2 separate regions of the Homo sapiens genome follow, and region 1 is linked to region 2. Evidence: fine-mapped QTL for protein levels in blood plasma. A gene starts in region 2. The other region holds a variant in brackets. All regions are shown on one strand. Distances are from middle to middle. Region 1 overlaps CFI (complement factor I). Region 2 holds the start of CFI (complement factor I).

What was found. PIP is the posterior inclusion probability: the model's chance that the variant is causal. The UK Biobank Pharma Proteomics Project read protein levels with antibody pairs (Olink). The fine-mapping took linkage between variants from a reference panel, not from the people measured, so its PIPs are less certain.
Region 1: its variant is fine-mapped to the plasma level of the CFI protein (UK Biobank, PIP above 0.99).

Annotation. Positions count from the first base shown.
Region 1 is chr4:109,728,523-109,740,911 of GRCh38, reverse strand. It overlaps CFI (complement factor I), which reads left to right. Exons shown (of 13, transcript NM_000204.5): 13 at 1-217. The coding sequence ends at 19. It overlaps PLA2G12A (phospholipase A2 group XIIA), which reads left to right and starts at 10,842. Exons shown (of 4, transcript NM_030821.5): 1 at 10,842-11,310. The coding sequence starts at 11,103. RefSeq lists enhancers at 9,848-10,724, 11,384-11,453 and a silencer at 10,714-11,053. The variant G/C (reference allele first, on the strand shown) is at 3,212.
Region 2 is chr4:109,795,673-109,808,061 of GRCh38, reverse strand. CFI (complement factor I) reads left to right here and starts at 6,063. Exons shown (of 13, transcript NM_000204.5): 1 at 6,063-6,147. The coding sequence starts at 6,091. It overlaps LOC124900757 (a long non-coding RNA gene), which reads right to left and starts at 4,390. Exons shown (of 2, transcript XR_007058226.1): 1 at 4,227-4,390; 2 at 1,474-1,621.

The sequences.
Region 1 (12,389 bases), 67 kb after region 2:
TTCTCAGTACAATGTATAAAATTGTGATCTCTCTCTTCATTCTATTCTTTTTCTCTCAAGAGTTCCATTTAATGGAAATAAAACGGTATAATTAATAATTCTCTAGGGGGGAAAAATGAAGCAAATCTCACTGGATATTTTTAAAGGTCTCCACAGAGTTTATGCCATATTGGAATTTTGTTGTATAATTCTCAAATAAATATTTTGGTGAAGCATACAAGTTTTATTTATCAGAAAATTTTATTAAATTATCTCAATGCGGGAGTGATTTATTGACTGAAGTTACAACTAATTGAATAATGTTGGACTTACATAAGGTTGGGTTCAAATCCCAGCTCTATCACCTACTATGCCCTGGACAATTTATTGTCTTCTTTGTGTCTCCTTTTCCACCTATAAAATGGAAACTGGAATTCTGTGAAAATGAAACTACATACTTACATAAATGTTTGGCATAGTACCTGTCACAGGGTAATAACTGACTTCACAGCTCTTGTCCCATTTCCCTGCTTCCTCTTTATTTCTTTCTCATCTTTTCTCTCTTTCCTTCTTTCTTTCTCTCTTTCTCTCTCTTTCTTTCTTTTTCTCTTTTCTTTCTTCTCTTTCTCTCTTTCTTTTTTTGAGGCAAAGTCTCCCTCTGTTGCCCTGGATGGACTGCAGAAGTGCCATCATAGCTCACTGCAGCCTTGAACTCCTGGGCTCAAGCAATCATGCCACCCCAGTCTCCCGAGTAGCTGGGATTACAGGTGCACACTACCATGCCTAGCTAATTTTAAATTTTTGTAGAGAGGCATCTTGCTTTGATGCCCAGGCTGGTCTTGAACTCCTAGGCTCAAGGGATCCTCCCACCTTGGCCTCCCAAAGTGCTGGGATAACATGCGTGAGCCACCACACCAGGCCCCTGCTTCTTTAAGTATTAACATTTCTTGAAAAATTAGCCTTTGCTCCCCCATTTCACAAGCATTCCTTGACCCTCTCTCTAAACCTATCCACAGATAATTCAATACAACCACCTACCTCCATGGTGTCAGACCTCACAGTCACTTCTGTTCTCATCGCAGCAGCATTAGCCCCTCAGGGCATCACACTCCTCCCTCACTGCTGTTCTCAGCCTCTTCCTTCTGGTTGCTTCTCTCACTTTGCCTTTCCCTGGTAATCTCATCTAGACTACGTTTTAAATCCTGCCTACAGTCCGGTGACTCACAAATCTGGATCTTCAGCTCTGACCTTTCCTAGAACCTCAGATTAGTATATGCCACTGAACACTAGTATATACCATTGCCATGTGAATATCTAGTAACATTTCAAAAGAAAAGTGGTCAACCCAAACTCAACAGTTGCACTTTCTTAACCTACAGAAAATAGCACCCCCACCCGACCCCAAGGCTATTGTAGGTGCCCAGTCTCCCTCTGTCACACCACCTACTTTAATCTCAGCATAGTACTTTTCTTCCCCCAGTGTATTCTGTTTTGATTGGGTTGTCTACCTCTTCTCAACACTGTCTCCTCCAACTACAACATAAGACACATGACAAGAGAGACCTCATTTGTCTTCCTTCTGGCTACATCCCTACCACTTGCCTCATAGAGGCTGCTCAGTGAATAAACATTAGCTACTCTTTTTTTTTTTTTTAAGCACAGCTATCTTTATCCTGAAGACAGACATATATGTTTCACATAAATATTCCCTTTATTATTTTATTTAGGGCCAGTCTTGGATAGATCCCTACTGATTTAATAATATAAATACCCATTTTTACATATATTCCAAAATCAGTTACTGCCCAGATTTTCTTTTAAAAATTGTGGTAAAATATGTATAACATAAAAGTAACAATTTTAACTATTTGTAAGTGTAAAGTTGAGTGACATTAAATACATGCCCATTGTTGTACAATCATTATCACCATCCATCTGCAGAAAATTTTCATCTCCCCAAATTGAAACTTCATATCTATTAAACAATAACTCACCACTCCTCCCTCCCATGCTGCCCAGATTTTTCATCCATTAAATTCAGGAAAGTATTTGGTTATTTATTGCTGGGAAGTTCCCCTTCCAGTCTCTCATGCTGTTGCCGTCAGACAGGATTGGACCAGAGTTATCACGAAGGCTTATTCACTCATGTGTTTGGTGCCTGGGCTGGGCGGACTTAGACAGCTGGGGCTTCTCAGATATGTCTCTCTGCACTCTCCCCATGGGCTCTTAACATGGCAGGGCCGGGGGCACCAGACTTCCTACATAGCAGCCGATGAGCCTCCCAAGAGAAACTGCAGAACCTGCATGGCCTTCTCTAACCCAGCTTTGGAAGTCCCTTAGCATCACAAAGACCTGCCCAGGCTCAAAGGAAAGGAAATAACCCATCTCTTGATGGCGGCAGGGAGGAGGTGTATCAAAGAATTTATGGACATATTTGAAAACCACCTTGTCCTGACTCAGCAATCCGGGAGCAACGCAGCACCTTAGAATATGTCTGTGTATGAGATAAAAAGAGAAAAGTGGCTGGGCGCAGTGGATCATACCTGTAATCTCAGCACTTTGGGAGACCAAAGTTGGTGGATCATTTGAGGTCAGAAGTTTGAGACCAGCCTGGGCAACATAGCAAGACCCCATCTCTATCACACACAAAAAAAGCTGGGAGTGGTGGTGCACATCTGCAGCCCCTGCTACTTGGAAGGCTGAGGTGGGAGGATCATTTGAGCCCAGGAGGTTGAGGATGCAGTGAGCTGTGATTGCAGCACTGCACTCCAGCCTGGGTGACAGATCAAGACCTCGTCTTAAAAAAAAAAAAAAAAAAAAGAAAAGTACTCCAGTGCTACAAGGTGGGAAACCCAGCATATAGGGCATCCTCAGCCAATCTAGGAAGGGGGCCCCCAAAAGGGCCAAGCCAGTCTGCACAGTGACCTAGCATCTGGCAGCTTCACAGAAAAGTAGACCAGGGTCAAGCCTTGAAGGGTGAAAGTCAGCCCTCTGAAGCGACTCTATGTGACAGAGACCAGGAACAGCAGGAGTGAGATGACCTGACTCCAAGCTTCTCCTAGTTTAGAGGTCTGTCTCAGCGCTCCTAATTCCAGACTACAGAAGCCAATCTAACTGGTTTAATGAAAAAATAGATTTATTCAAAGATATTATGCAGTTCACAGAATTTCCAAAAGAGCCAGAGAATTGGAGTCTACACATCTGGAAATAACGCTCACAGACCACACTGCAG[G/C]ACTGCTCCATCAGAGACTACCATGGCCACTAGCATGGGTCCCAGTCTCCACGTACAGCTTGTACTGCAGAGCCTGGGCACTGGACATTGCTGCTTCTGTGAGCTCGCCTGAAGGTGGCCAGGGACACAACTCATTGGATGTGGAGCTCTGCCATCGTCTTATATTTAACCCTGGTTTCAGAGCTCTCTGTCTTACAAGAGAAATGGGAAAATAAATTATGCGGCTGCACCTTGCCAGGTACAATGGTAAGGAAAACTAAAGGGAGATCTAGAAACCAGCCTGACATATTAAAGAGGGCTTCTGCAGAGGTGAGCTTAGTCTGAATTATGGAAGAACTTTCCAGGCAGATACAAATGCAAAGGCCCTGCAGTGTGAGGAGCTAACCACACACAAGGATGGAGAGCAGTTCATAGTGACTGGAGCCCAGGGTGCAGCTAAGGAGCTGGAGAGGGGGAAAGGCCATACCAGGGAGAGCCTCATACCAAAGAGTTTGGACCATTAAAGGATTCTAGGAAGTTCAAGCTGGAGACAGCAAGGAAGATGTATTGGAAGTGGGTGAGAGAGGGTATGGAAGATGGTTAAGACACTCTTGGAGTAATCAAATGAAAAATAATGAAGGTAGAAACTAAAGCAGGGATAAAAAGGATGGCACTGACTCTAGATATGTTGAGTGAAATAGATGGCATTTGGGGACAAATAGATTACAGTACTAGGGAGAGGGATTTGAGACTAGGATAATTCCCAGTCTCTTAGATGGTGAGGTGATTGGTGTTGCCACTGAGTACAGAAAGGAAGGAAGTAGAGGAATGGAATCAGATTTAGACAGTTAGGGATATTTTGAAGTTGTGATGTCTAAGGAAGCCCAGTGAAGGTGTACAGTACGTGATAGGAAATACGAAGCTGAAAATCAACCAGAGGTTTGGAAGTAGCCAGGAACCCTAATTAGAAGAACTACATACGGACTCTGTCCTGATGGCTTAAAACCCTGCAGTCTCAACTAAGTGGGTTCTTTCCATCCCTCCTGTGTGCCAAGCAATCTTACATTGTGCATACAAAGATACCTTGAAAATATCTTTTTGATCAAATTTTCTTGATGGTAGACCCCCCACCATACCCAAGCAGAGGATCATTGTCTTCAACATATTATGGAACAAGCCCATGCTCATAGATCTGGTGCAGCCATCTCTTGCCCTTCACTTTGTCCCAGCTTGAAAGCTATTAATGCCATTGACTTTCTAGCCAAAGGCTGGAACCTAGTACTTATTTCTCTTTAACTTAAGTTCCCTTTTAGAGATGAAACTTCTAGCCTTGGTGCGGTGGGAAATTAAAGAAATAAAGAAAAATAAAATTAAAAAGAGAAAGAAGTAAGCTTTCCTGTATTAGGCTGACTCATCCCAAAGGCAGTAGCAGGCAAGGCCCAGACCCAGGAAAAAGAGTCTTGATAAACACTATCTAAGAAGCTAGGACACAAAGGAATGTGCTCTGGAGACTCTCCCAGCACTCCCTCAACATAAGGAGAAGAAAAACAAATTTTCCTTTCTCTTATAGTATGAGTTTATAGATTTCTGTTCTCTGTAACTAGCAACTTCAAGCATTCTGTTTTATCTAAGTAGTGGAGTGAAGGTCATAAACTGTCTGAGCAGGCCTGAGATACAGCCACCTGGACGCCATAGTGAAGGTCATGGAATAAGCTGTGCTAGGCACTAAAGGAAAACCTAGATAACTGACATCTGGGTTGCACAGCAACGGTCATGTGTAATCCTGAGTTATGAACCTGTCACAATTTGATTAATTGCTCTGCCTCTGTATCCTTGCTTTCACACCACTGTAACTGTAAGCCTGCTTCAAGCTAGCCCACTCCCTTTTTGAAGTGTGTATAAAAGTCAAGTGCTGTCTTTGTTCTAGGCCCAGTTTTCCAGATGTAAGTCTGAGTACACTCAATAAAGATCCTCCTGCTTTACCCCGAAGTCTCTCTCATCCGCCTGATTCCCGCGACATTGGCACTAGCCATAGATTAATCATTATGGATGGAATTGCTTCACCATGTGGCTTTTATTTTCATCCTGGACAAAAATTAACCATTATGGCTGGAACTGTTTTCACCACGTGGCTTTTATTTTCATCACAACACTGCTGAGGCCATTAGTGAGACATTGGAAAATACTAAAAAATAGAAATTGCTGTTTATCATTAATATTTTATTGATTTTTGTTATTTAAAATAACACAAAGCATTGTGTAATATTGTAGTTTCCAAGCATTCTAAGTTAATGTGGTACGTTAAACCCCACAAATTTTGCATTCTCATCTCATCAATACTACCATGTTTTTCCATGATGCTCATATATATAGAAGAAACCATTTGGTGTTTCTAGAAGAGATCTGAGATCTGACTGCCTATCCTGATTATTGTTCTGGGAAGTTCTATATAGAAAATATAGTGTAGGGCTGGGTGCGGTGGCTCATGACTGTAATTCCAGCACTTTGGGAGGCCAAAGCAGGAGGATCACTTGAGCCCAAGAATTCAAGACCAGCCTGGGCAACACAGGGAGACCCCATCTCTATAATAACAATAACAAAAATTAGCCAGTCACAGTTGTGTACACCTGTATTCCTAGCTACTCAGGAGGCTGAAGTAGGAGGATTGCTTAAGCCCAAGAGTTCGAGGGTACAGTGAGCTATGATCATGCTACCCCCACCTGGGTGACAGAATGAGACTCTGTCTCTGAAAAAAGAAAAGAAAAGAAAGCCAGTCTTGGCCACCCAGAATCTCCCATTCCAAGGTATTTATTAATATATCATTCAGACAAGAATAAGCACAAATATAGTATATTTTATATTTTCATAATTTATTTTGATATTCACTGTAATTGCATTTCTTTTCTTTTCTTTTTTCTTAGACAGACTGTTGCTCTGTTGCCCAGGCTGGAGTGCAGTGGCACGATCTCAGCTCACTGCAACCTCCACCTCCTAGGTTCAAGCAATTCTCCTGCCTCAGCCTCCCGAGTAGCTGGGATTACAGGCACCTGCCACCACGCCCAGGTAATTTTTTTGTATTTTTAGTAGAGACAGGATTTCACCATATTGGCCAGGCTGGTCTCGAACTCCTGACCGTGTGATCTGCCCGCCTTGGCCTCCCAAAGTGCTAGAATTACAGGCATGAGCCACTGCGTCCTGCCTGTAATCGCCATTTCTAATTCTTTTCTTCCTCTGACTACAACTGTGTTTTCTCCCTAGTACTTCAATGAGACTCTTGTGAAGTTCACCAATAACCCCCAAGTTACTAAATCTAGTAGTCAATATCCGGCCCTCACCTTCCTCATATCAGCAGAATGGGTGGTTCTGTCTTTCTTTGACACACCAGAATATAGCACTTTTCCACTTCTGCTGCACTTGGCTGCTCCTTCTTAAGCGCCTTTGTTCTTTTTTCCTTGACCTCCTAAGACTTAGACCTTGCTCTGCTTCTTTGTGTACACTCACTTTTTAGAGGATCTCATTTAGTCCCATGTTATTTATTTATTCATTTATTTAAGACAGGGTCTTGCTCTGTTGCCAGGCTGGAGTGCAATAGCGCAATCTTGGCTCTCTGCAACCTCTGCATTCCGGACTCAAAGGATCCTCTTACCTCAGCTTCCCAAGTAGCTGGGACTACAGGCATGTACCACCATGCCTGGCTAATTTTTGTATTTTTTTTATAGAGATAAGGTTTTGCTATGTTACCCAGGCTGCTCTTGAACTCCTGGACTCAGGCGATCTGCCAGCCTTGATCTCCCTAGGTGCTGGGACTACAAGCATGAGTCACTGCGCCCAGCTAAGCCCCATGACTTTAAAAGCCATTTCTATTCTGACAACTTCCCAATGCGTTTCTAACCTTTATGCTGAACTGCAGACTCAGAATAAGCTTCTTGGATATGGTATGACTGAAATTTATTTTTAAAATTTTCCCGCAAAACCCTCTCCTTCCACAATTCTCCCCATTTCTGACAGTTAGAACTCTCTCTATCCTGTGGCTTAGGCCAAAATTTCAATGCCATCCTTGATTCCTCTTTTTCTCTCATATTCAGTCCATCAGCAAATCCCTTCTGCTCTACCATCAAGTTACATCTAGAATATGACCACTTTTCACACCTCCACTGCTCCTTTCCTGGACCAAGCCATACTTATGCCATACCTAGATTACTGTATCATAACTGACTTCCTATCTTCAGCTTCTGCCCACCACAAAGTATATATAGACAAGCTAGCCACTCTCTAGCAGGAAAGACCTGGAACACAGCTGTGGATTTGCAACTAATGATGTCTGTCATGAAAATAACAGGTTTTGCTGGTTAGATGAAAGTGTCCTGTAAAGAAGGCTCTTTTCAAACAGTTTATGCCAAAATTTGGGAAGAAAAGATGGAAGTGGGTCATCTAGAAGTTACGTGAGATGAGCTGGGCACAGTGGCTCATGTTGTAATCCCAGCACTTTGGGAGGCCAAGGCAGGGGAATGACTTGAGGTCAGGAGTTCGAGACCAGCCTGGCCAACTTGGTGAAACCCCATTGCTACTAAAAATACAAAAAATTAGTCAGGTGTGGTGGCGGGCACCTGTAATCCCAGCTACTCGGGAGGCTGAGGCAGGAAAATAGCTTGAACCTGGGAGGCGGAGGTTGCAGTGAGCTGAGATTGTGCCACTGTACTCCAGCCTGGGCAACAGAGCCAGACTCAAAAAAAAAAAATTTATATGATATGGTAAATCAGAGCATGCATCCTGTGTAGTGGCACAAGGCCCCACAGTCAAAAGGGCTCTGTACTTATTTTAATGCTCTGCTGTTATCACCTTGAAATTCTTTTTTTTTTTTTTTTGAGACAGAGTCTTGCTCTGTGGCCTCGGCTGGAGTGCAGTGGCACGATCTTGGCTCATTGCAAGCTCTGCCTCCCGGGTTCACGCCATTCACCTGCCTCAGCCTCCCGAGTAGCTGGGACTACAGGTGCCCGCCACCATGCCCAGCTAACTTTTTGTATTTTTAGTAGAGACAGGGTTTCACCGTGTTAGCCAGGATGGTCTCGATCTCCTGACCTCGTGATCTGCCCATCTCAGCCTCCCAAAGTGCTGGGATTACAGGCGTGAGCCACCGCACCCGGCCATCACCTTGAAATTCTTAATTTTTGAGCAAGGGGCTCTGTATTTTTATTTTGCACTGAGCCCTACAAATTATACAGATAGTCTGTGGTCAGTGCAGATCCCTGGTATTTAACAGCATCAATTAAGAGGAAAACGTAAACCTTGTAATTACTGCAGCAGAACAACAAATATATAATGATTAAATGTGAAAAGAATGTGAAAATAAAACTTAGAGTCTTGTTTTCTACAAAAATGGTGGTGATTCTCATGGGGAAGACAGTGGAAAGATTTGCTTGAGAGAAAGAGAACAGCTGCATCAAGCCAGAAGAACTGGCATTTGAGAATTTAATCCCTAAGGAGAGATCAGACAAAGAAAACTACGTCTGATTCCTCAGAGTATAGGCTGTAGTTAAGGTGTAAGAAATTAGATGAGATCACAAAGAAGTAAATAAATAGAGAAAGTGGGGGAAAGGAGAGGCTTTGGGTCATAACTGAGGGCTGGAACTAGGTTATTTTATTACATTCTATCCTTTCTTTTGAAAGTCTTGTCCCTGGACTAGGGAGTTGTAAGAACCAAGCCTGGTTTAAGGATTCAGGTGGTGGTATCTCAGAGGTAATCTAGTCCAACTTTCATACTTTGGAGCTGAGAAACCAATGTTCCAGAAAGCTAAGACAATGATTCTAAGTTCCCTTTTTAAAATGTATTGAAATGTGTTGTCTAAAAATTAAAAAATAAAAATATCTGTGGTATTTTGTGAAGACAGAGGCCTTGGTTTGGAGTAGATACTGTCACATGACTTCTCACCTCGACTCTTTTATTGTAAAAGAGGAAGATAATAATACCTTCCAGGGAACATTCTTCCCCCTTCTCCATTGTGGTAGGAATTAATCACTGCCCAAGACTCCTGGTTGAGGGGCTGAGTGAAGTGCAGGCAGTCTCCAGCCAGGAGCTACACCGTTTGTTGGGCTACCCTGTTTGTAGGGAGGAATGCCTTTCTATGTTTCTAACTTGCCCAAAGTCTGCATCCTTGTAAAGTAGTGTTCTGAATGTGAGCGATCATATTCATGAAGTGCCTGGCACATAGTAAGCACTCAATAAAGAGGGATGTAATTTTTATGAACTGTGCACTGAACGTTTATTATAAGCTCATTTAGTTTGTAACAAACACAAAAGGCCAAACCTAGAACTTATTGGTAATTCTTATAGAAAGGACACACCTATGCCCAATACTTACTCACTTTCTTTTTTTTTTAGAGTCTCGCTCTGTGCCCCAAGCTGGAGTGCAGTGGTGCAATCTCAGCTCACTGCAACATCCATCCACCTCCTGGGTTCAAGTGATTCTCCTGCCTCCGCCTCCCGAGTAGCTGGGATTACAGGTGCCCGCCACCACGCCCAGCTAATTTTCTGTATTTTTGGTAGAGATGGGGTTTCACCATGTCAGCCAGGCTGGTCTCGAACTTCTGACCTCAGGAGTTCCAGGCCTCCCAAGGTGCTGGGATTACAGGCGTAAACCACCGCGCTTGGTCTGCCCAATACTTTCAACATTGCTCTGGATCTTACTGTAAAATTCTTGGAAACTGCTGTGATACTAAGATAACCAGATATTTACAACTGATACAAAGTACTACTGCAATAGTTATTTATGGATCCCGCACAATGCTGGGGGCAGGGTGGTAGGTACAGAGAAACAAACGTCACTGTAACTATCAAGTTACAAAATCCCTTGAGTAGAAAAACAATGACTTCCTTAAGATTTATTTTACTTTTTACTGTATTTAAGTTTACACTACTGTTTCTTCCTTACCAGGGGAGAATTTTATGATTTTTATGTTGGCCCATTTTCTTTTTCCGGAAAGTCTAAACTAGCATTTAGCTCGTCCTGATTAGAGTCAGGCACCGCCAAGGCATGGGTTGGCATCTTCCAGATCCCGCTCCCCCAACCGCGGCCACAGCAGATCTGGAGGACCGGGAGAGGACGCAAGGAGGAAAAGCCCTGCTCTGCGAGCTGACAGCCGGACTCTGCCCACATTGCCAATGGAACCACGTCTTCAAGCCGGAAACTCAGCTGGACCTCTCGCAGCGCTCTCTGCGAGGGGGCACAGGGGTTATTTTCTCCGATGTTGTCCACACCCAGAAAAGCTTGTCTCTCGGGGCTACTGTGCTGAGCCCCGACTGGTCAGGTTAGGCCACCGGGGTTAGCTCTGCAACTCTTGCTTCACGGTTAACAGCCCGGAGAGCTTTCTTAAAAAATACCGACGCCCACTGCCACCTGGGACAACGTAATCAGGCTCCCTAGAAAAGGGGCTCAGGCCTGGGTACTTTTTAAGGTTCTCTTGTGAACCAGGACCAAGGGTCTTGGGAGGGTGCCGCGGAGACCACGTGGGCATGGAGGCCCCGCCCCCGTTTCCCGCCCCGCGCGCCCCTCCCCCGGTTCCCCGCCCCCCCCAACCCCGCCCCCGCCCCGCCCCACCCCTGCGCGTCCCGCCCCTCCCGTGCGCCGCTGACGCGCCGTGCTCCGGCGCAGGCGCACAGGGGACGGTTGCTGGCCCAGGTGAGCGGGCGCGCTGGTCCAGGTGAGCGGGCGCGTCCCCGCGACGGCGCTGCCTGCCCGAGGCGGTTCACGTAAAGACAGCGAGATCCTGAGGGCCAGCCGGGAAGGAGGCGTGGATATGGAGCTGGCTGCTGCCAAGTCCGGGGCCCGCGCCGCTGCCTAGCGCGTCCTGGGGACTCTGTGGGGACGCGCCCCGCGCCGCGGCTCGGGGACCCGTAGAGCCCGGCGCTGCGCGCATGGCCCTGCTCTCGCGCCCCGCGCTCACCCTCCTGCTCCTCCTCATGGCCGCTGTTGTCAGGTGCCAGGAGCAGGCCCAGACCACCGACTGGAGAGCCACCCTGAAGACCATCCGGAACGGCGTTCATAAGATAGACACGTACCTGAACGCCGCCTTGGACCTCCTGGGAGGCGAGGACGGTCTCTGCCAGTATAAATGCAGTGACGGTGAGGGGGCACCCGGGCCCAGCGAGGGCTCGTGCTTTCGGGGGATTGGGGTGACGGAGATCCTGGAGGTGTGAGTGACAGATGCAAGGCAGACCTTGACGGTGTCCTTCGGCTGTGGAAAAACTTAACCACTGCTAGAATCTTGCCGTTCTAGTGATTGAGCAAGCTGGGTACAAGTTCGCACCACTATTGTTAGAATGTGAGAGGTCACATTCTAACGGAGAGGTGTACCCCCCGTCCCATTTGCATTGCTTCTGAATTACCTTTTCCCCCCCTCAATTGCACCAAGTTGCCGAAGAACTTACTGACGTAGGAATCATGGGAATAGAGTGGAACAGACTGGTTTTAGCTCATTTTTGCTTCTGTAAATTGGATGAACATGCGAAGCAAACTGAGAATTTAAAAACCATGCCGTATTAACTTTCTCTATAATTGATATTAAATGGTTTTTTTTCTGCAAACCCATAGACAATAACTTGCGACCTTTGTACAGACTTTTGGTGTACTCGAGTGTTGAGAAAGGGTTCCGATAACTCTTCTTTCCTTAGATATCAGTGACCCGCCTCCTCCTCATTGTTGGTTAACGTTAATACAGTTATCTTCATTTACTCTTTTAATATTTTTTGAACTTTCTCTTTGAACCTGAGAATTTGTTTGGTGGCGGTATGAGTACTAATCAACTCAGTATTTCAGGCAGAGATAGTTCTTTTGTAGCACATTTTTGAGTGCTTAAATATTTTAATAGGTCAGAAAAATATTGGACTTTTGTTTGGAAATTGAAAATGTTAAGAGAGCAGTTGGGAGATCATGTTTCCAATAAGATTAGCCAAGGTTAGAGTCTCATTATGCTGGCAGCGGAAAATAATCGGGGATCCAGTGACTTCATTGTTGGAACCTGATTGTATAGGTGAACTTAAAAGGAACTGGTATCATGTAAACCTATGATGCCACATGCTGCCTGCAATTTTCAAGATAATTTCTAGTTTTATGTTAATAGAAGTAAAGGATGAACTGTATCTTGTATACTTTAAAGCGCTGAACAGGTGCTGAGACATGTTGCATTGCTTCTTAAATTTGTG
Region 2 (12,389 bases):
TCTTAGAGTTCCCTGCCAGCTTTTCATCTAACGGTTTTAGCAGCTGTTGGTGATCATCACTAGATCCATTGGCTCATAAGGTAGTGCAAAATAGTAATATGATAATTCTATCATTTATTTTGCAATTATTAACTGAAATAAAGAAATTTCCTTTTTTATTTCAATTTTTTGCTATCATTGTTCCTTATAATGCTTAAAATATTTCATCTTTGAGAGCCCCTTCAAGTATTTTAATACCACCAACTAGCCTCCAATGGCTTCCTTGCTTTCTGGTACAAAATATTTCTTTCACATTTTATGCCCCAGATGTGGAATCGCCCTTTCTCCAAAGAGCCTTAGTTTTTTAAATGGAAAATGGTAAGTAGAGAAGACAATCTGCCACTAAGGAGTGCTCATTGCTTCTGGATTGTTAGGACTTCTAGGCCCTATCAGTGGACACAGTGGACAACTAGAAGGTAATTATTTTTAGAAAGAAAAAAAACTGAGGGTCATAGCGGTATTTCCAATTCAAAGTTAAGACTACAGGGTTTCCATTTCTTTGAATTTAAACTTGTGTTTGTCTTACCCTGAAATTCTTATGACATTAGCATAATTATTTATTTGCCTTAGCCTCCATATATATATATATATATATATATATATATATATATATATATATGCTGTCAAGTAAGTATTATTATTAATGGTAAGATTACTGAATACTACTCAAGATTTTGTATCAGTTTGCTAATATTTTGTTTAGAGTTTATGCATCTATATTCATGAGTGAGGTTGGTCTTTTTATTGTGCTGTACCTCTGCTTTTGTAGATTCTGATTATAGAGCTCTGCCTTCAATGACTGCAGGAGAAGGGTGGGATATGAGGCCTCAAGGGTTTGCCTATGGCTTGCCTCTTAAGTTCAGAGACTCCCTTAACTTCATGGAGGCTGGTGTCATCTAGAATGCTTCTCTGCTTCTGCCTCAGTGTCCACTCAAGGGGTTCTGGGTTAGAACATGTGCTATAGAGAGCCTTACTGTAGGCTTTAGCCTGGAGTAAATGCTCAAGTTACCCCCGAGTGGGGCACTGGCTCAAATGTTCTTCCCTTTATTTATTAATTACTTAGTCTATCACTTATCTCAGATTCTACTGTTTCTATTTATTCTATGGTCTTTCTTATTTTGGATATCTCGTTGTCACCTATATGAATTTGACACTTCTTAAACTCCTTTAAGTTTTGCAGTTAATCTTTTCCTGTCTATTATATGTATTCTAGTAATTCCTCACTGTTTATGTCCTATTAATGAATCCTTCTTCATTTTTCAATGGTGCAATGGAATTACTTTTATTTTTATATTTATTTTCATTGAGATCATAGGAGGAAAGAGACTTAAACTGAATAAAATTTCAGTCCTCATGAGCACTTTACATTTTCTTTTTGTTAACTACTGTATTGGTCCATTCTTGCACTGCTATAAAGAAATACCTGAGACTGGATAATTTATAAAGAAAAGAGGTTTAATTGGTTCGTGGTTCCACAGGCTGTACAGAAAGCATGATGCTGGCATCTGCTCCGGTTCTGGGGAGGCCTCAGGAAACTTACAATCATGGCAGAAAGCAAACGGAAAGCACGTGCATTACATGGCTGGAGTAGGAGCAAGAGAGAGGGGGCATTTTAATCAGAAAGGATCAGAAACAGTTCTCATTCACATGGAATGGGCAACATATACACTTAAAGTTTTCCCAGGCCTTATCTGCCACCTTCTGATATAATATAATATGCAGAGATCTGGAGCATCTGGATTTCCCATAAGACACCATTGTTTTTCCATTGATAGCATTATCTTGATCAGAGGAGATGAGGAAGTAGCATGCTAAATACTTTGGTAAGACAGATGTGCTCCAGAGGGTAGGAAATAAAGCCTGGCACATCGGTAAAATTTTTAGGAAACCAGTGTTCAGGAACGTGCTAGCACATCCTCTTTAATGTAAAAGACAAATTATTGTATCTTGTACTTTCTTTAACAAAGAAGGAAGCACAAAATCTGATGAGGCTTTTTGGACTCTGGGAGCAAATATTCTGCAGTAGGGAATACTGCTCCAGCTGCCAAAGCAGAAATGGCTTCTGCAGTGGTCCAGCAGACTCTATGGCATCAGAAGTCTCAGTGATGGGGGAAAAAATGCTGTGTGGTGTTTGAGGAAGATCCTGTGGGAGAACCACAATATAGGACCTCAGGGTTCTGGAGCAAGGCCATGCCATCTGCAGCAGAGAATTGTGTGTCTTTTAAAGACCAATTTGTATATTACTGGTTCCTGGTAAATGTAGAATAATGAATCACAGGACACTACATCACCATACGGCCAGAACTGCCCATTATGATCTGGATCCAAATGGACCCGCAAAGTATAAGGACAAGCAGGCCTAGGAAAAATGTATTGTAAGATAGAAGTGTGACATCCAGAGCCAAACACAAACAGGACCAGAGGTATGAGCAATGTGCATAAACAGGTAGCAGGTAGCCCAGACTGCCCCTGTCCCCAGCATCCAAACAGTTGCACTCATGGCCCTTCCTTAGCTCACACCTATAGCTCCCTGGGGAATTTGGTATGACCAGCTGAAGGAGGAGAGAAAAGGTCACATTTTGTTTACAGATGGGTTGGCTTGGTATATAGGCAAGTTAAAAATAGACAGAGGCAGCTTTACAGCCACACTTTGGAGTGGTTTTGAAAGACAGTGGTGAGAGAAAGTCCTCCCAAAGGGCAGAGCTGCAGGGGGTACACCTGGTCATCCACTTCGTGTGGAAAGAGAGGTGGCCTGAGGCTAGACTTATATAGAATCACAGGCAATAGTGATTTCCTGATCATCTTTTGTTCCTGAAATGAAAAATATTCAAAGATCAAGAGCAAAAAGTTCTGGGAGGCAAACAGCAACTTTAGCCTGAGAAGTGAATGGTAACCAAGGGTTCAGACCACTCCTGAAAGAGACCGTGGGTCATGTCATCAGGTACGTCACTGAGATCAGCAGAGGTGGGAGGTCGGAGTGAAGAGAATCTAGAATGGATATGTGTACATACAGGACTGGGCATGAAGTATACAAATCTTTGTATCATGGCCAGGCACGGTGGCTCACGCCTGTAATCCCAGCACTTTGGGAGGCCGAGGCAGGTAGATCACAAGGTCAGGAGATCAAGACCATCCTGGCTAACACAGTGAAACCTCATCTCTACTAAAAATACAAAACATTAGCCGGGCGTCATGGCGGGCGCCTGTAGTCCCAGCTACTCAGGAGGCTGAGGCAGGAGAATGGCATGAACCCGGGAGTCGGAGCTTGCAGTGAGCCGAGATCACGCCACTGCACTCTAACCTGGGTGACAGAGCGAGACACTGTCTCAGAAAAAAAAAAAAAAAAGAGAGAGAGAAAAAAGAAAAAGGAAAAAAAATCTTTGTATCACATGTTAATGCCTACTAGAAAGCATCCACCAAAGAAAAGGCACTAAATAACCAACAAAATGGCTCAACCAGTTTGGCTCAACAAAACGATTGAGCCAAAATGACTGAGTCTCAGTCATCAGCCACCCCACTGCTGGCACGATGGGCACAAGAATGAAGTGACCGTGGTAACAGAGATAGAGGCCACCCATGAGGCCAATAGCACAGACCCCGAGGCTTATCTAGCTCCCATCATTAACAAATGCCCAACCTGACAGCAGCTGACACTAATACTGTCCCCACAAGATGGCACAATTCCTCAAGGAGACCAACTAGTCACTTAGTGGCAAATTAATTACATCTGATTCTTTCACTCTTTGGAGGGTCAGTGGTCTATTCTTACAGGAATAGACATATTTGAGGTATGAGTGTGCCTTTCTTGCCTGCAGGGCCTCCATTAGCACCATAATCCAGAGAATTATAGAGTGCTTAATTATCTAGCAAAGATCACATCCTGCCAGACAAGGGTGCCCACTTTACAGCAAAGCAGGCCCAGGAGTGGGCCTGTGATCATGCAATCCCCTGGTCATATCACATACCACACCACTCAGAAGCTGGTGGACTTACAGAATGTTATAATGGGCTGCTGAGGACAGAGCTGAGGTGCCAGTTAAATGCAAAACTTTGTGAGAATGGGGTGCTATCCTCCAGGAAGCAGTATATACATTCAATCAAAGACTTTCATATAGCATTATGTTCCCAATAGGAAGAATACCTGGGTCTGGGAACCAAGGAATAAAGGCAAGAATTACCACACTTACCATCACCACCATTGACCAACTGGGGGCTTTGTGCATCTTGTCTCCACAGTTGTAGACTCTGCAGGGTTCGTTATCTTGGTCTCCAAAGGACTATACTTTCACCAGGGGCAAGCAAGAGTCCCATGGAATTATAAACCAGAGCTGTTGCCTGGGGTACGCTGGGCTCTTTGTGTCTAGGAACTAGCAAGAAAGAGTCAGAATCCACAAGGGTAATTGGCCCTGATCATTCCGAGGAAGTAGGGCTGCTATTACTATAATGTGGGCAGGGAGGAAGATGTGTAGAACCCACATAACCTACTGGGGTACCTCTTATTTTTTGCTTTTTTTGGTTTCTTTTTTAAGAGAGGGTCTCTCTTTGTCACTTAGGCTAGAGTGCAGTGGTGCAATCATGGCTAACTGCAGCCTCAACCTCTCCCTGTGTTGCCCAGGCTCATCTCAAACTCCTGGCCTCAAGCAATCCTCCTGCCTTGACCTCCCAAAGTGCTGGGATTACAGGAGTGAGCCACCATGTCCAGCCTGCCTCTTGTGACAGTAGGGATAAAAATGGCAACTTTTGCCTGAGAAACAAAAGGTAACCAGGGGCTCAGACCACTCCTGAAAGAGAGTGTGGGACATGTCATCCAGTAAGTCACCGAGACCAGCAGAGGTGGGAGGTCAAGGTAAAGGGAATCTAAAATGGATAGGAAGGGGGCCAAGGGTAAGTTTCAACTACAGCCCCAAGATCAACTGCAAGGGTAGGAGCTGTAGTTTTTCCCATTAACTTCCTCTTCTAAGTTTTCTCTCAAGAATAGGGACCCACTGAAATGTTTAAGGAGCCACTCCTGGAGTGTATATGGAACATAGATCTAAGAGGTGCAAGTATGTACTCTGAAAGACACAGAGATGAGTTTCCCAGAACCCTTGTCAAGGAAGGTCTTGCTACCTGGCTGTAAAGAGTGTAGTCAGAAGATACCTCCTCCTGATAGCACATAACTGTCAGATCCTTCTGTGTCTGCCTTAGCTACAGAAAACTGTCTCACCTAAGTGTATGCCCTTCCTGGGCAATATATAGTAGGGGACCAAGCAAGGCAGAATATAATGGCCCAGCCATTTATACTGAAATCAGGGGCACTGTGACAGGTCACACTCACTCCAGTTCAACTTCTACCTCTGTTCACCCCTGCTTCCCCTCCCTTCCTTGTATGGATATCGATCCCTAACAAACACTTGTGCCCCACACTCACTGTCTCAAGTCTGCTTCTGATGAACCCAACTGTGTCAGCATTTCTGCTATCACAGATTTATTTCATAAATAGATAAACCCTGCATGATAGTTGGTACTGGCACAAGAATACTTGTTTTTAAAATTTCTTGTACTCCAAAAATACAATTTGATCACAGCACAACAAATGCATGGTAAAGAAGCTGGTTTCTAGAGTTTTAAATGTATTTTGCAGCCTTCACTATATGGTCTACTTTTATTCTTACTGTCTCCTAGTCTTCAACCTTAAGTTTAAAAAATTATATTTTTACTGTACAAAAAAAAAACCAAAAAATTGCTTCCAATATAATTTCTGTCTTCCCTGGAATACAGAATTGAGTCATTGCAATTAACAGGGTGGGAGGAAATCAGTCTCTTCTGGTGGAAACAAGTTCCTATTGGTCACCTCCCTCAGCTCTTTAATGGGAAGGCCATTTTTTGGTTTCAGTTACGGTAAATCTCTCTGGATTTCAGCCAAATTCTTTCAGAGTTCAAAAGTACAAAGCTCTTTAGGAGGTTTGTTCTTTTGAAACATTTTTTCAGAGGTTAAAAATTAAATTTCAAAAGAATACCTGGAGTGGAAAAGAGTTCTCAGCAGAGACAAAGACCCCGAACACCTCCAACATGAAGCTTCTTCATGTTTTCCTGTTATTTCTGTGCTTCCACTTAAGGTTTTGCAAGGTAAGTAATTCAACCTTTATGCAAACAATTTTAATTGATAATTTAAAGGTTGTAAAAACATAGAAAATAATCTTAAATATATAATTTTGATTTAAATATTACATAGTTCAGTTACAACAATGCCACTCTATAGTCAGCAACAAATGTTTTATGTTAATATCTTGATAAAAGTGATTTTTTAAAAATAGTTCTTTTTATGTGCTTATATATGCAGAGGCATTGAACTGAACAAGAATTTTACTAATACAAGGCTGTGATTTACTGTAATTGTAGTAAATCAAAAATATTTACCAGGCTCCTCCTGTGTGTAAGGTACAGTGCTACGAAGACAGTGAGACTGATCTCTTCCTTCAACAGCCTCTTAGTACGCTCTATAGTTATAGAAAGGGGAAATAATAAGCAAATTTGAAACATCTGAAAACACAAAAGTGCAAGTTACAAGACAGTATATATTTAATTGTCAAAAGTGATACAAATATGTGGTAAAGGACTTCAATGAGAGGACAAATCACTTCATGCTGAGAGGTCATGAAGAGATTATAGATCAAGTAGGATTTGAGCTGAACGTTTAATTCTGTATTACATGTGATCAGTGGTGAGAAAGAGGAGTGATTTCCAGCTTCTTTAGCCAGGAAAAGCAGCAAGTGCTACCATAGGAAGGCAGCAATGCACTAGGCCCCTCCAAATAAATGAATCCATTTGATCAGAATGAAGGCTTTGTGGGCTACAAAGGAACTCGAAACTGAAATGACATATTTTATTGAAGTTAGAGTGTCATCTATTAAGGTGAAAAATGTTTAAAATATTTTGGATACTTATTGATGATTGCCAACTTTGGTGGCAATCCAAAACTATCTTGTCTTAGTGCCAGCTTGTAGAAGAAAATATTTAAAGAAAACTACTTAAGAAAACACACTTTAAGATTCTTGTAACTTCTAAAATAGTTGCCATCATTGCAATGTTTATAATAGAGAATAAATGGAAATAACTAAATGCTTATTAATAAGACACTGGTTAAATTATTGTATATCCAAAATTGAACTATTACATAGCCATTGAAATGACATATTTATCTAAATAAAAAGTCCTTACTACAATTTTATTTTTATTGAAGAAAAACACACACACACATATGTATGTGTGTTTATATGCATATATATAAATGCATACTTATACCTACTTATATATATGACTAAAAGATCTTACAGTGTATGTATCAAACAGTTAATAGTTGCTATCATTGGCTAATAAGATTACTGGTGATTCTATTTTCTGTTTTCGGTTTTACTGAACCTACTCAGACAAGGAAACTAGGGGATTCAGAAAAGATGGAAAAGAAACCCATAGCACAGTGGGAGTGGCTGCTGGGGCCTTCTAATGGGGGGAATAACCAGAGGATGTTCAACAACAAGGAAGCTGACTAGGTGTGGGGGTTCACGCATGTAATCCCAGTACTTTGGGAGGCTGAGGCAAGAGGATTGCTTGAGCCCAGGAGTTTGAGGCTGCGGGGAGCTCTGATCATGCCACTGTATTCCAGCCTGGGTGACACAGCAAGATCCTGTCTCAAAAAAAAAAAAAAAAAAAAAAAAAAAACAGAGAAGCCAAATATTTCAGTCAACATGATTACCTACCATAATTGTGCTGTGACGTAATCACCAACTGATACCCTAAATTTTATTTTACCCTAAAATTTTATTACAAACTCAGGCACATATGGGTGGCATTTTAGAGAGAAAGAACTGGGGTAATGTTAAGCAGAATGACAACATCCTGGAAACAAGGGTGGCACACAGGAGGGTGTGCAGTGCAAGTGATGGCAGCGGAAATGGCAGAGTAGGCAGATCCACCAAAACCAAAAACCAAAAATCCATTTCTACAGAAACCAAAGGGAAGCTGTCAGAACCAACTTTATTTAGAACTCTGGAAAACAGTCAAAGGTTTATAGCACCTAAGAAAATGTTGAATGCAGGAACAGGCAACTAAAAATGGTATGAAAGCTTAGTAGCATTTTGCGTGTCTGTCCTTTGTGTCCTTGCCCCATACCCTCCCTAATTTGGCAGTGGTCTTGAAGGATATCTGAGTACATAAAATAGCCTTAACACAATAACAACAAATTTTGGTTTATTAAAACAAGTTCACACATTGTCATTAAAAAGACATTTTGAAATTCACTGTATTCTCATTACCTTAGTTTGCAAATGTTAAAGCAATTTTCTTCTAAAAATACAAACTGTTTCTCTTACTATGCAGAATATTATCCTAATCACTTACCACACTTCTATCACCCTATCACTTATAATACTGTTGTAAACCAACCACTAAGTGGCCTTTCCACTTACAATTTCTTCATGTATCTTAGATTTCAGTTTCTTAATCTTCCATGGGAAAGTATATAAATCTGTCTATCTAATATGGAAGAAATTCTCCTAACTCTGGTGCAGCAAACACTGACCATGTACGTTTCTCACTCAGGGAGGGACCCGGTTCCCTAGCACTGGAAAGAACAGAGAAGACCTTATTCAAAAATAATGTGTTTGTCTTTTCTATCCTAAGGCCTTCCTGTAGGACAGACCCCAGGCACTTGTCTTGGTTTCACCTAGCTCAGAACTCAGAGCAGAAAAGCATTAATATTACAAAGCACAGGCATTGCAAGATTAATGAGCAATCTCAGCTGTCTGGGGCAAAGGATTACAGTGGAGGCACACAACAGAGCACCAAAGCATGGGGAAAAACTAAGATCCTATGGAAAATTAGGGCATTCAAAAGTGCCTGTGTGTATTGGGGAGTTTAGGAAGCCCCATACATGCTCAGGGCAGGATACATGCTCAGAAAGACCTCAGAAGACTCTGAGCCTGCACCTCTGGTGGTTGTCTAAGTTCAGTGCAAGTATGAAGTGAAGGCTAAGGTAGAGTTGCAAATGGCCTGGATGAGTGAGTGCCCAGGACAGAACCAATCTGCAAAGACTGGGAGAGATTTTGAGATTTTGATTTGTTTTTCTGGGTTTCTTTTTCTTCTCTCTCTCTCTCTCCCTCCTCTTGCATTGAAGGAAATCTCTGTCTAAATACTAGCTGAATATAAGTCAAAGGAACAGACTTCAAAGACCACATGTGATAAAGAATAGACTTGCCAAAAGTAGTTTAGAAAAGTCATCAAACAAACACCAAGCAACCAAAGCAAACCCCAAGCAACCAAAACAAACCCCAAGCAGAAGGAAGAGTCTGATTTCAAGAGTTACTGTAAGAGTCAAAGTGTCAACCAAAAATTTTCAACCAAAAATTATGATGCATGCAAAGATATGAGAAAGTATGGACCATTTACAGAAGAAATGAACATAATCTGTTCCAGAAGAACCACAAACTTTGGACTCACTAAACAAAGACTTAATGGTCTTTTTAAAAAAAAAAAACACTTTATTGAGTTATGATTGACATATAATAAACTCTACATATTTAGTGTACATAACTTGATGAGTTTGAGTTTGGAGATTAGTATATGTCTGTGAAAATATCACAACATATGCCATAAACGTATTCACCACTTCTAAAAGTTTCCTCTCACTCTCTTTATTTATTATTTTGTGTGTGCATGTAACAACTCTTAACAAAGAAATTGTGCTCTTAGCAAATTTTTAAGTATACAATACAGTATTATGAACAATAGGCACTATTCTGTAGCATAGATCTCTAAGAATTATACATCTTGACCTTTGACTAACACTTCCCTGTTTCCCCCTCACCCAGTCCTTGGCAACCACCATCCCACTCTCTGGTTCCATGAGTTTGACTATCTTAGATTCCTAATATAAGTTGTATTATGTGGTATTTATCCTCCTGTCCCTGCCTTGTTTCACTTAGATTAATGTCCTCTAGGTTCATCCATATTGTCACAAATGGCAGGATTTCCTTCTTTTTTAAGGCCAAATAATATTTCATTGCATGTATATACCACATTTTCTTTATCAATTCTTCCACAACTGTAGAAGAATTTCCCTTTCTGCATATCCTCAGCTACATTTGTTACCTTTGGTTATTTTGACAATAACCATCCTAACTGGTGTGTGATTTTGATTTAAATTTCCCTAATGGTTAGTGATATTAAACACCTTTTCAAGTACCTATTGACCATTTACATATCTTATTTGAAGAAATGTCTATTCAGCTCCTTTGTCCACTTTTTAAAGTAGACTATTTGGTTCTTGGCTTTTGATTTGTAGGAATTCCCTATGTATTTTAGATAGATATTAACTTCTTACCAGATGTATAGTTTGCAAATATTTCTTCCATTGTATATGTTGTCTTTTCATTTTGCTGTGCAGAAGGTTTTTAGCTTGAGGTAGTCCCACTTGTCTGTTTTTGCTTTTGTTGCCTGTGCTTTTGTCGTCATAGTCAAGATATTATTGCCAAGACTAATGTCAAGAAGCTTATCACTTATGTTTTATTCTAAAAGTTTTATGATTTCAGGTGTATGTGTAAGTCTTTAATCCATTTTGAGTTGATTTGTGTGTATGGGGTAATATAGGGGTCCAATTTCAGTTTTTGCATGTGGATTTCCAGTTTTCCCATTACCACTTATTAAAAAGACTATTCTTCACCCATTATATATTCTTGGCTCCCTTGTTGAAGAGCAGTTGACTATCTATGCATGGTTTTATCTCTGAACTTTCTACTTTGTTCCATGAATCTATATGTCTGTTTTTATGAGAGTACCATATTGTTTTGATTACTGCAGCTTTGTGATATTTTTTGAAATCAGGAAGTGGGATGCCTCTGGCTTTGTTCTTCTTGCTCAAAAAATTGTTTTGGCTATTTTGTGTCTTTTGAAATTCCATGTAAATTTTAGAATTATATTTTCTATTTCTGTAAAAAAATGCCTTTGCAATTTTGGTAGGGATTGTATCAAATCTGTAGATTATTTGTAATAGTATAAACATTTAACAATATTAATTCTTTCAGTGAAGGAATGTGAGTTGTCTTGCCATTTCTTTGTGCCTACTTTAATTTCTTTCATCAGTGTTTTACAGTCTTCAGGGTATGAGTTTTTCACCTTGTTGGTTAAATTTATTTCTAAGTGCTTTATTCTTTTAACTGCTATTGTAAATGAGATTGTTTTGTTTTGTTAAAGACAGGGTTTTGCACTGTTGCCCAGGTGGGAATGCAATGGCAAATTATAGCCCACTGCAGTCTTCGCCTCCTGTGCTCAAGCTACCCTCCTACCCCAGCCTCTCAAGTAACCATGACCAAAGGTGTGCACTACCATGCCAACTAATTTTATTTTTTGTAGTGATGGGACCTTGCTATGTTGCCCAGACTAGTCTCAAACTCCTGGCCTCAAAGGATCCTCCCACCATGGCCTCTCAAAGCACTGGGAAATAGGCATGAACTGCTGCACCTGGCCTGAGATGGTTTTCTTAAAATTCTTTCTAGGACAGTTCATTATTGATGTATAGAAACACCACTGATTTTTGTATGTTGTTTTTGTATCCTGCAGCTTTAGTGTTGCTGTTTATCATCTTTTCATTTCAACTTGAATAAAACCTTTTATCATTTCTTGTAAGGCAGGTGATGTATTTCCTGTTTTGATTTATTAGGGAAAGTCTTTATCTCTCTTTCATTTTTAGAGGATAGTTTTTCTGGGTGTAATATTCTTGGTTGGCAGTGGTTTTGGGGTTTTTTGTTTCTTCGTTATGACACTTTGAATATATTATCCCACTCTTTCCTGGCCTGCAGTGTTTCTGAAGAAGAAGAAATTTGAAGAATAAATCCACTGATAGTTTTATAGGGTTTTCTTTGTATATGACAAGTTGCTTTTCTCGTTCTTTCAAAATTGTCTTTTTGTCTTTGACATTTGAGAATTTGATTATAATGTGTCTCAGTCTAGACCTTTTTAGGTTAGATATCTTTGTGATCCTTTTGGTCCTCATGAATCCAGATGTCCATTTCCTTCCCTAGATTTGAGATGTTTTCAGGCATTGTTAATTTAAATAAGCTTTCTTTCCTTTTCCCTTTCTCTTCTCCTTCTGTAAATAACATAATGCATTCATTCGTTGGCTTGAGGGTATCCCACAAGTCCTGTAGTCTTTATACTTTTTCATTTTGTTCCTCTGACCATATAATTTCAAATAACCTGTCTTTGAGTTCACTGATTCTCTCTTCTGTTTGACTAAGTATGGTGTATGAGCTCTCTACTGAATTTTTCAGTTCCTTTATTGTATTATTTTCACCTCCAAAATTTCTCTTTGGTTC